2 separate regions of the Homo sapiens genome follow, and region 2 is linked to region 1. Evidence: fine-mapped expression QTL. A gene starts in region 1. The other region holds a variant in brackets. All regions are shown on one strand. Distances are from middle to middle. Region 1 holds the start of CPEB2 (cytoplasmic polyadenylation element binding protein 2). Region 2 overlaps C1QTNF7-AS1 (C1QTNF7 antisense RNA 1).

The links. PIP is the estimated chance that this variant, and not a neighbour inherited with it, causes the effect.
Region 2: its variant is fine-mapped to the expression of CPEB2 in whole blood (TOPMed, PIP above 0.99).

The regions. Positions count from the first base shown.
Region 1 is chr4:14,999,936-15,005,307 of GRCh38, reverse strand. CPEB2 (cytoplasmic polyadenylation element binding protein 2) reads right to left here and starts at 2,827. Exons shown (of 12, transcript NM_001177382.2): 1 at 973-2,827. The coding sequence starts at 2,634. CPEB2-DT (CPEB2 divergent transcript) reads left to right here and starts at 3,263. Exons shown (of 8, transcript NR_038857.1): 1 at 3,263-3,370; 2 at 3,583-3,682; 3 at 4,079-4,147. It overlaps C1QTNF7-AS1 (C1QTNF7 antisense RNA 1), which reads left to right. Exons shown (of 6, transcript NR_125911.1): 6 at 151-366. RefSeq lists enhancers at 381-947, 3,789-3,838 and silencers at 389-988, 1,369-1,578, 1,679-1,828, 1,879-2,188, 2,689-3,548.
Region 2 is chr4:15,076,051-15,081,422 of GRCh38, reverse strand. All of the region lies in intron 2 of C1QTNF7-AS1 (C1QTNF7 antisense RNA 1), which reads left to right. Among named protein-coding and RNA genes, the nearest start is that of CPEB2, 76 kb to the right of the region's middle. The variant A/G (reference allele first, on the strand shown) is at 3,325.

The sequences.
Region 1 (5,372 bases):
ACGAGGAAACACACCAATCCCAGATCCAAGTTCAGTTTTGTCTTAAAACCCACAAAACATGACCCCAACATTGAAAAGCACAGAAACTAAGACATTCGTGGGATATCTCGGTTTGAACCCGAGCGGTCACTAACAGTTTCTCTTTCCCAGTCCTGTGACAGCCAAGGAGGCGGCCCCGCGGGAACCAGGTCCTGCGAGGAGGGCGGTCGGCCGCTCCCTCCCGACTCCCTCCTGGGCCGGCGGCCCAGGGTGCGGCGCTGCCAGCAGGTTGATCGGGCGGAGCTTTGGGAGCGGCTCGACTGACCGCCCGAGGGGCTGAGGCTTCAAGGCGAGATCACCGCCGGCCAAATAAGAATAAACAAACTCCAAAGAAAAAAAAAAGCCTTTCCGCCTTCCCTCATTGGACAGCGAGACAGAGTCTTGGGCTCCTCCGCACGCACCTTCTCCAGCAATCATTTTTCCCCTGCCCAAGTTCACTTCCCACGGCCGCTCTTCCGAGGCCCCCGGCCAGCCCCCGGTCCTCGCCGCGCCTCCCCGCGTCGGGGGTCCGGGGCGGCGGCCCTCCAGGCCCAGGGCACAGGGCGGATCCCGGGGTGCGCCAGCTAGGAGGGCCGGGTTGAGACGCCGCGCCCGGCCGCCCGCGGCCCCGGCGCTATTCGGCCCCTGCCCCAGTCCCCACTGCTGCGCCGGGACGTTCGAGGGGGCGCCCGGCCAGCCGCGGCTCCCAGCGCGAACTCGTCTCCCACGCCCCCACAGCCCACGGTGGCCACTGCCCTCCCAACCCACCGGGGGCTGGGGTTCCGAGTCCTGTCACGGTTGTCCGCCCTCAGTTCCACTCTCACTTGGGCGAGTGGCCCCCGTCGCGGCTTCTCTCGGGGCTAAGGTCGGGTCCCCGGCTGCCCTGCCCCCGCCTCCGTCCCCCGCCCATGGTCTCCCGGTCCCGCGGCGCGGCCAGGCCGCCGCCCGCCGTACCTGGTGGTGGTTATAGGAGTTCCTCTGCTGCAGGAAGGCGGCGGCCGCCGCCTGGTGCTGCTGCTGGAGCTGCGGGCTGACGGGCGACCTCCGGCTCTGCGGCTGCTGCGGCGCCGCGGGCGGCGGGGGCTGCTGTTGAGGTATATTCATGGCGGGCGGCGGCGGAGGGGGCACAGCGGTAGCCGAGAAGGGGCCGCCGAAGCCGCCGCCGCCGCCGCCGCTCGTCGGAACGCTGAGCCCAGTGCAGCCGTGCGGCGACACGGGCGAGAAGCTAGGGAAGAAGGCCGGGTTCATGGACGACGGCAGCCCGGGGTAGAAGCCGTTCTCTGAGTCGGGGCTGGGCGGCGGCATGGCGCTGAGCGAGCCGCCGCTGCCGCCGCCCGGGGTGGTGGCAGACGAGCCGGGCGGCTGCGGCTGCGGCTGGGGCGGCTGCTGGGGTGGCGGCGGCTGCTGCTGCGGCTGGGTCGGCGGCGGCTGCTGGGGCTGGGGTGGCGGCGACGCGGTCTGCACCGACCAGGGGGTGCCGAAGCCGGGCAGCGGCGGCGGCGACGCGGAGCCGCCTCCCCCTCCGCCTCCTGGGGGCCCCCCGCCCCCGCCGCCGCCGCCGCCGCCCGGGTGTGGAAGGTCCGGGCTCTGCAGGCTGCTGAAGGCGCCCGCGCCAAGCGCACCTCCGGGCAGGAGGTTACTGGGACTGTTGAGCAGAGGGTGGTTGGGGGACTCCATGGAGCCCGGCGCGGGGTTCACCGGCGTCGAGGAGGCCAAGCCCGCATTGGGGGACTCGGCGGCGCTGCCCTCGCCCGCGGCTGGGGTCTTGCGAGGGCTGCCCGCGCCTCCGTGGCGGCGCCGCGGGGCTGCAGGCGGCGAGGGAGGGAGCTGCGGGAGCGGGGGCAGGTCTGCCGGACGCTGCCGCGGGGCGAAGTCCTGCGGCGAGAGGTGCTGCTGATGCAGGAGGCTGAACTGCTGCGGCGGCTGTTGCTGCTGGCGCTGAGCGAGCTGCGCCGGCTGGAGGAGCGGGCCGGCTGGCGGCGGCGGCGGGCTGAACCGACCGGGGCAGTGGAGCGGCGGAGGCGGCGGCGGCGGCTTCGAGTCCGGAGGGTGGGGAAGGTGGGGAGGGCTGAACTCTTTCCTCTTCTGGCTGCTCAGCTGCTGCTGCTGCCGCTTACTGAAGTCCTGCGGGGAGGAGGTGCGGCAGCAGCAGCAGGAGGAGGCGGAGGAGGAGGAGGGGTGGTGCAGACTCGGTTTGAAGTCCTGGGAGGGGAGGAGGTGGGTCACACCCGCGATCGTGCCGCCGCCGGGGTGGTGGTCGGGGAGTTTCTCCGTGGCCGCCGCCCCCGAAAGCGGCCGCGCCGGCTGCTGTGTCAGCCCCAGAAGCAGCTCATCCTGCATGGTCTGCTGATGCGCCAGGAACGGGGAGGAAGAGGAAGCGGCGGCGGCCGGGCTGCCCGCGCCGCCGCCGAGGGGGACGGAGAAGGGGGAGGCGGCCTCTAAGAAGCCGGTGACAGGCAACGGTGGTGGCGACAGTGGGCCGAAGGGCGTGGCGGAGGGCAGCGGGTTGACGGACCCCACGGCGTAAGGACCATACGCCTCGCCGCAGAACAGGGGCCCAGGACTGCTACTTCGGAGCGGGGCGGTCTGCAGCACCCCAAACCCGAAATCCCTCATTTATCAGGCCGCCGGCAGCGGGAGGAGACGCTCCTCGTCCCCTGCCCCACCTAGGAAGCCGCCGGCGCTGGGGTTGCGCGGCCGTGGTGGAAGGAGGGGGAGTCAGTGAGAGAGGGACACCGTGACTGAGCCAGGGGGCACCGACTTCGGCCCCACCACCCCTCGCGGCGATCGCCGCCGCCGCCGCCGTCGCAGTCGCCGTAGCCGCCCTGGCCGCTTAAGAACCCCGGAACGTGCGTCAGCGCCACCTCACAATCGCGCCGCCCCCCGCGGTGCGTCCCGGCACGCGCGGGCGCGAGGCCACCGCGTCCCCGTCGCCCCTCCCCGCCCCTCATTACTATGCAGACGCAGCCGAGGGCGCGCTCGCGCTCCCGGGAGGGCGGGAGCGAGCGGCGTGTCCCGTTGGGTCTCTCCGCTCCCGGGGAAATGGACAGGCCGGTTGGGGTGGGGGTCGGCTGGCAAACAGTGGTCGGGAGCATTGGGCGGGCGCGCGCACGAGGGCAAGCACGCGCGGGAGGGAGGGACGGTTCCTGGGCAACGGCCCCTCCTTGGCGCGGGATCCGCGCAGAGTCTGCCTGGGTCGCACGCGTCTCCGCCCCTCGCGGTGCCTCCTCCTTCCTGTCACCTCGGTTCCGCCCTGGGTGGGGAGAAGCCCTGCTGCACCACTCGGGCTTCCCAGAGCGGGGCTGGCCCGCGGGGGAAACTGAGGCCCGGGACCCCGACCGGCGCCTGCACTGTGCGACCCGCGTAGAAATAGGCGCCCGAGGGGCCCCCAGCGCAACGCGGGAGCCCGGCCCAGCCCGGGGGTCCTGTGGTGAACTAGCGTCTGGGCTCTGCCGGCTTGAAGTCCGCTGAGCGCCTCGCCGCGCACCTCTAGACCCCGAGTCCCCGATCTAGGGCCTCCTTGTAGCCCTAGGTAGCGCCCTCTAAGCTTGTTTCTGTTTTTAGGCGCTGGTAGGAGTGCTGTCACCGACGTCGTAGAGCCGCCGAGGGTGTTTCTGTAGGGTAAACATGAAGCCTCGGCTATATTCCAGGCATTTTCACTTGGGTAAGAAGGAACAAAGTCCCTGGAACAAACACGCTCCGCGTGGTTATTTACACACTCGGATGCGTGGAACGGGTTCCACGGCGAGCTCCCATAGTAACCCCGGGCCAGCTCCGCTTCATAAAAGCCTTTCGTGTGCCATCAGGGCTGCAGCGTGGGACTCCTCCCCACCACATTCATTCCGGCGTCCCCGCCCCTTCCCCCCAGGGAGACTCTAATTTATTCCTAAGCTTTATGAATTTTCAAGGGAGAAATAGTTCTTACATCAGGGAAAAAAGGAGGTTCTGACTCAGCAGCAGACTTGTTGAGACTTGCAAAATGGAAGGGAGAGAGCTTTCCATGGTAGAGCTCTTTAGAAGCATTAGAGGAGGAACTAATCCTGTGTTTCCTTTTGTATAGAAACATTTTACATAAAGTATTTGAAGGTCTAGATAAAGAATAACAGAGTGATCCATACTACATGATGAGGTGAACTTTATGTTTCTGTTTTGTAATTTTAACTGTTTTGCTTGATGCTTAGAGAAATGAAACTATTAAATGAATCCTAGAATATAGACTCAAACCCCCAAAGCAATAGAAGGTGGATTCAGACTTTACTTGATTTTGGTTTACAAGTGAACTAAGATTAAATATTTAATTTTATAAATTAGCATACTCTTACTGATGTAGGCAGAGTGTACATTTTTATAAGTCCTCATTCTCTATTTGAATTCTACTTCTGTTCAGTGTCTCAAATTTATATAAATCGAAATAAACATGGTAGAAAGAGAGCAACATTGCCCCAGGGAACTATACTTCATGTATAATGTTTATCTCTGCTATCCTGTCCAATGAACCAAGTTTTATGTTGCCTTTACAATAAGGAAAAAGTACTTTTTAAAAAACTCAAATGGTTCAGAATTTGGTCAGGTGAATAGAAAATTGGTTCAACTTATTAATCTCAAAATCATTTTTAACAGTCAGGCAAAATGTAGAACTGGAGAAGTATTTTTATTCTAAATTACAATGTCTAGAAAATAACCTGAGCTCAGAATTTAAAATATAAATGGTTATTTTCAGAGTATATATTGACATATTAAATATTCATTTTTTAAAAGGTATTGTGCAGGAAAAAAAACTACTTCTGCAACTAAGGAATGTAAAGTCTTAACAACGGATGATTTTTTTCCAAGTACAGTTGTATTTGATTGGAATCATTTGCAGATCCAACAACAAATCTTGAAATAGGGGGAAAATACAGGTATAAACCTTAGCTCAATTATCCACTAACACCGCAGTTAGTAAAGAGGAGAGAGCACATACTTTTAAAAGCTAACTGGTGCCTTTCTGGGCTAGAGTTTTGAACAAAAACAAGATTTCTTAGTGCTCTGGTACTAGTTTTGTCTTAGAGGATTTAGAGCTCTCTGAAACGGGGAAAAGCCATCAAGTTTGTTATTACATAATAATGTCAAACTTCATATTAAATACACCAAATTCCAAATCCTGCCAGGGCCTCTACTCACTACTTTTGTGAGGGCCCCATTTTTTTAGAGCAGAAAGTTACTTTCTGACATCTTGTAAGCTGGTGATCTTGCCCTTATTGAAAATATTCAAATGAAAAGGTTTCCTAGGGTGGAGAGTGGAGTGGGGTAGGGAGAAGGAGCAGCAAATACTGAGGAGGGACTATGGTCCTCTAGCAGTTTCCATGCCAAGA
Region 2 (5,372 bases), 76 kb before region 1:
TCTGCAATAATGGGAGTCTTAATAAATCTCATATCCAAAAAAGTGCCAACATGGTGAAACACTGTCTCTACTAAAAATACAAAAATTAGCTAAGCGTGGTGGTGCATGTCTGTAATCCCAGCTACTTGGGAGGCTGAGGCAGGAGAATCACTTGAGCCTGGGAGGCAGAGGTTGCAGTGAGCCGAGATCGGCACTTTAGCCTGGGTGACACAGAGTGAGTTAGACACTGTCTCTAAGAAAACATAAAAAAACCCCAAAAAAGTGCATTATAGGAGTAATTACTTCGATGGGAAGAAGAAATAAGGTACTGAAGTTTTTCAGACTTCCAATAACAAAGTTGTTTTTCCCCTGTAGGAATTTTATTAATGAGTATTTTTTAACTAAAAACATATAGCTATAAAAATGAAACATAACTGAACAAATATGGCATTTGATTCCACCTAGCTTTTCTCTCAAAAACAATCTCTTTCCTTTTTCTGTCACTACTAGCTGTTGTTATACATTCTTACCATCTGTTTTTATCTACTTAGCAATTGTCTATCAAAAATTTCTGCTCTGCATGAGGCATTGTTCTAAATGTTGGGGCTGTCATAGTGACTAAGAAGGGTAAGAATTCTGACTTCAAGAATCTTCCCATCTTCCAATCTAGTGGGAGTGACAGACATGATACATGTAAGCAACCAAATCAATACAATAATTATAGATTTTGATATGTGATAAAGGAACTAGGTAAGACACCGAGAGGGAAGTTAACAGGAAGGGCTCGCTTCAGAATGCATGGACAGGAAAGGCCTCATGAAATCTGAGATCTGAAGACAGAGAAGACCTGGGGGAAGAGCATTCCAAGCAGAGGGAACAGCTAATGCAAAGTCCTTGAGGAGGAAAGAGTTTGCTATGGTCTTGGAAAGTTCAGGGACACCCAAACGAAACAACTGTGCTGCATGTGAAGCAGCATTTTTCTTCATGACTAAACTGCTCAATGGTTCATTTTAATCAATAGCAGATTACGTAATGCAAAATAAGTCTCCAAATTAATATACTGCATTGTGTCTAATTCAGATCGTGAAAAGTCACTCTGTAGGAGAAATGCCTGCACCACTTTGAGTAACGACATCATTGCGAGCCACCAAAATTTTAGTTTCTCAGGCAGCATGATGACATTTCAAAAAGTTCAGTGGAGTGGCTTCTCATGGTCTGGGGGGAAGGCAAGCACTGGACAAAGACTCTGGGGCTCCCATTTTGGCTCATCCACCAAACAGCCTTGGAACTTCAAACCAGTCATTCTCCCTTCTTGGAACTCAGTTTCCTTCTCATCTGAAATAATTGATAAAGTCACTTTAAATAAGTAAGGGCTATGGTTTATTTCCTGTAGAATGGTTAATGATTTACATGTCATCATCAGTATAATTTGAACAAGGGGAAAAAAGAAAGAAATAGAAAGGAAGAAATAAAAAGAGAAAAACTAAAGAAAAGAAAAAGGAAGAAAAATAATGAAGATCTTGCACATGAATGAGGAAATGCTTAATAAATGGCATATAGTAATCATAACTTTTTAAAAACAGAAGTTTCTATGTCAAATATATGGCAGGGCTACCTGTTTAGCTGCTGGTTCCATCCCTGTCCGACAATTCCTAGTGGTGAAAGCCTATAATCTGAACCTGACTCTTCTGATAGCAATAATAATTCTCAATTCAGCCCAGGAACACCACATGTAATTACTGAATTCTAAAGATGGTCTCCCAAGATTCCCATTTCTTATTTTTCAATTGAGCACTGATCTAGGTACTGCTATGAGGAAATTTTGCAGCTGTAATTAAAGCTACATGTCAGTTGATCCTATAATACAGAGATTATCCAGTGGGCCTGACTCAATCAGCTGAGCCGTTTAAAAGCAAAATTTTCGCTGGCTGGTTGCAGAACAGAAAGTTTCCAAACTTGAGAAAAATTCAACACATTTTTTGCTGGCTTTGAAGGAGGAAGCAACGTTAGCAGGAGTGTGGTCAGTCCTAGGAGATGAGAGTGGCCCCTTGCCACCAGACAGCAAAGAAACAGACATCTCAAAAGCACAAATGCAAGAAACAGTATTCTGCTGAAATTTGAATGCTCTTGGAAGTACCTTATTTCCCACAGTCTTCAGGCAAGAGTCCAATCCAGCCGTCATCTTTATTTTGGCCACGTGACGTCCTTAGCAGAGAACCCTGTCATGTTCCCCCAGACCTCTGACCTACACAATTGTGAGCTAGTAAATGCGTTTTGTTTTAAGTTACTAAATTTGTGGTAGTTTGTTACACAGCAACAGAAAATGAATACATCAAATATTTGAAGAAAGCAATATGAAAGAAAGACACCAAACTCAACTAACATCCAAAGAAACACTTAATTTAACAAGTAGGATGTTTTCTTTAAAAAAAACCCTATAATTTCTCCAGTAATTTAAAAAATTGTGGTAAGAACATTTAACATATCTATCTTCTTGACAAATTTTTAAGTGTACAATGCAATATTGTTCAATACAGTCATGATATTGCACAACAGATTTCTAGAACTTACTCATTCACCTTGCATGACTAAAACTTTATACTCACTGCCCAGCAACTCCCCATTTTCCACTTTCCCCAAACTCTGGAGACCACCCTTCTACTCTTTGCCCCTATGACTATTTTTGGAAATTCATATAAATATTTGTTCTTTTGTGACTGACTTATTTCATGTAGCACGGTGTCCTCAAGATTCATCATGTTGTCACATTTGGCAGGATTTCTTTCTTTTTTGAGGCTGAATAACATTCCATTGTATATATATACCACATTTTGTTTGAAGAGTCTTTGACTTTGGTATTAGGGTAATACTGGCCTCATAAAATAAGTTTAAAAGCTTCCCCTCCTCTTGAAGTTTTTGGAAGAGTTTAAGAAGGATTGGCATTAATTTTTTAATAATTGAATAATATTTTTTATTATCATGTCTTCTCATTCCTAGGAATTTAAGTGATAAAAATCAGAACAGAATCTGAAATAGTCACACTACAAAATCGGTTAGATTTCTCTTGGGATACCACCACATGTGCTCATAAGTGGGATCTAAATGAGGAGAAAATAGACACTTAGAGGGGAACAACATACACTGGTGCCCTTTGGAGGGTGGAGGATGGGAGGAGGAAAAGGATCAGGAAAAATAACAAATGGGGTACTAGGCTTAATATGTGGGTGATGAAATCATCTCTACAACAAACCACAATGACGCAAGTTTACGTTATGTAACAAACCTTGTTTGTACAAGGTTTGTATCCCTGAACTTAAAAGTTACAAAAAAAGGGTCAAAAATTAT[A/G]AAAAGAATTGCATAATCCTAAGTCATCTATTTATTTAAAAGTGTTTGGTGTAACTCACCAGTGAAGCCATCTTATTCAATTTCCTTACTAATTATAGATCTGTTCAGGTTTTTAATTTCTTCATAATCCAATCTTAGTAGGTTGTATGTTTCTAGTAATTTATCTGTTTATTCTAGGTTATACAATTCGTTCGTGTATAAGTGTTCATAGTAGCCTCTTTTGATCCTATTTCCATGGCATCAGGTAAAATGTTTCCTCTTTCATTTCTGATTTTTTTAATTTAAGTCTTCTCTCTCTCTCTTTTTTTTTTTTTCAATTCTAGCTATGGGTTTGTCAATTTTGTTGATCTTTTTCAAAATCCTACTCTTAGTTTTATTTTTTTTAATTGGTTTTCTGTTTTCTATTGTGTTCATTTCTGCTTTAATCTTTCTTTCTTTCTTTTTTCTAACTTTGGGCTTAGATTGTTCTTTTTCTACTTTCTTGAGGTACAAAGCTATGCTGTTTATTTGAGTTCTTTCTTATTTCAATGTAGGTGCTTATTGCTGCATAATTTCCTTTTCCTGATTTTGTTACAGTCCAAAGGACTTGGTATGTTGTGTTTCCATTTCCAGTTTTCTCAAGATATTCTCAAATTTCCCTTCTGATTTTTTATTTGATTCACTGGCTGTTCAGGAGTGTCTTGTTTAATTTACATATTTGTGAATTTTCCAGTTTTCTTTAGTTATTGATTTCTAGTTTCATTTCATTGTGGTCAGAAAAAAATACTTAGTATGAGATCAGTCTTCTTAAATTTGTTAAGATTTGCTGTGTGACCTAACATGTAATTAATTCAGCACTTGAAAAAAATGTGTATTCTTCTGCTGTTTGGTGGAATATTCCATATATGTCTCTTGGATTCATTTGGTCTACAGTATTGTTTATGTCCTCTGTTTCTTCATTGATTTTCCATATGGAACTTCTATTCATTGTTAAATGTTAGGTATTAAAGTATCCTACTATTGCTGTTTTTCCCTTAGTTCTGTCAATGTTTGCTTCATATATTTAGATACTTCTAATGTTGGATGAATACATATTTAAAATTGTTACATTTTCCTTAATAATTATTTTATCATTATATAATGACCTTTTGTGACAGCTTTGTCTCAAAGTCTATTTTGTCTAGCATAAGCATAGGCATGCTACTCTCTTTTGGTTACAATTTGCATGGAATGTTTTTCCATCTCTTCACTTTCAGTTTGTATATGTTCTTAAATCTAAAGTCAGTCTCCTGTAAACAGCATATAATAAGTTCCTATATTTTATTAATTTTATTTTTATCCATGCAGCCATTTATAATTGGAGAATTTAATTCATTTACCTTTAAAGTGATTGTTCATAGGGAAGAACTTACTATTGCCATTTTCTAGTTTTCTGTCTTTTGGTTCTTGTGTTCTTTTCCTTTCTTGCTGTTTTCCTTTGTTGATTTTTTTTTTGTATTGATATGCTTTGATTCTTTTTTACTTACTTTTTTAAATTTACTTTTTACTTTCTTTTGTGCATATTTTATAGGTGTTTTCTTTGTGGTTACATGGGGCTTACAGAAAACATCTTATGGTTATAATAGTCTATTTCAGGCTAGTATCAACTCCATACAGAAACTCTACACTGTTACTTTTCTTCTCCCCACACTTTGTTCTTGATATTACAATTTATATCTTTTAAAATTGTTTATTCATTAACATATTTTATAGTTATAGTTATTTTTACTGTTTTTGCCTTTTTAACCTCTAAACAAACTAAAACTTATTTACCTATCATATTACATGTCATGGTATTTTCAATCTGTATATATATTTACCTTTACCATGAAGTTATATAGTTTCATATGCTTTTTAATAGATGTTAAGCATTCTTCCTCTTCAACTTGAAGAATTCCCTTTAACATTTTCTGTAAGGCACATCTATTGGTGAAGAATTCCTTCAGATTTTGTTTGTCTGGGAAAGTCTTTATCATGCCTTCATTTCTGAAGAACAGGTTTTGCTGGTTATAGTATTCTTGGATGACAGT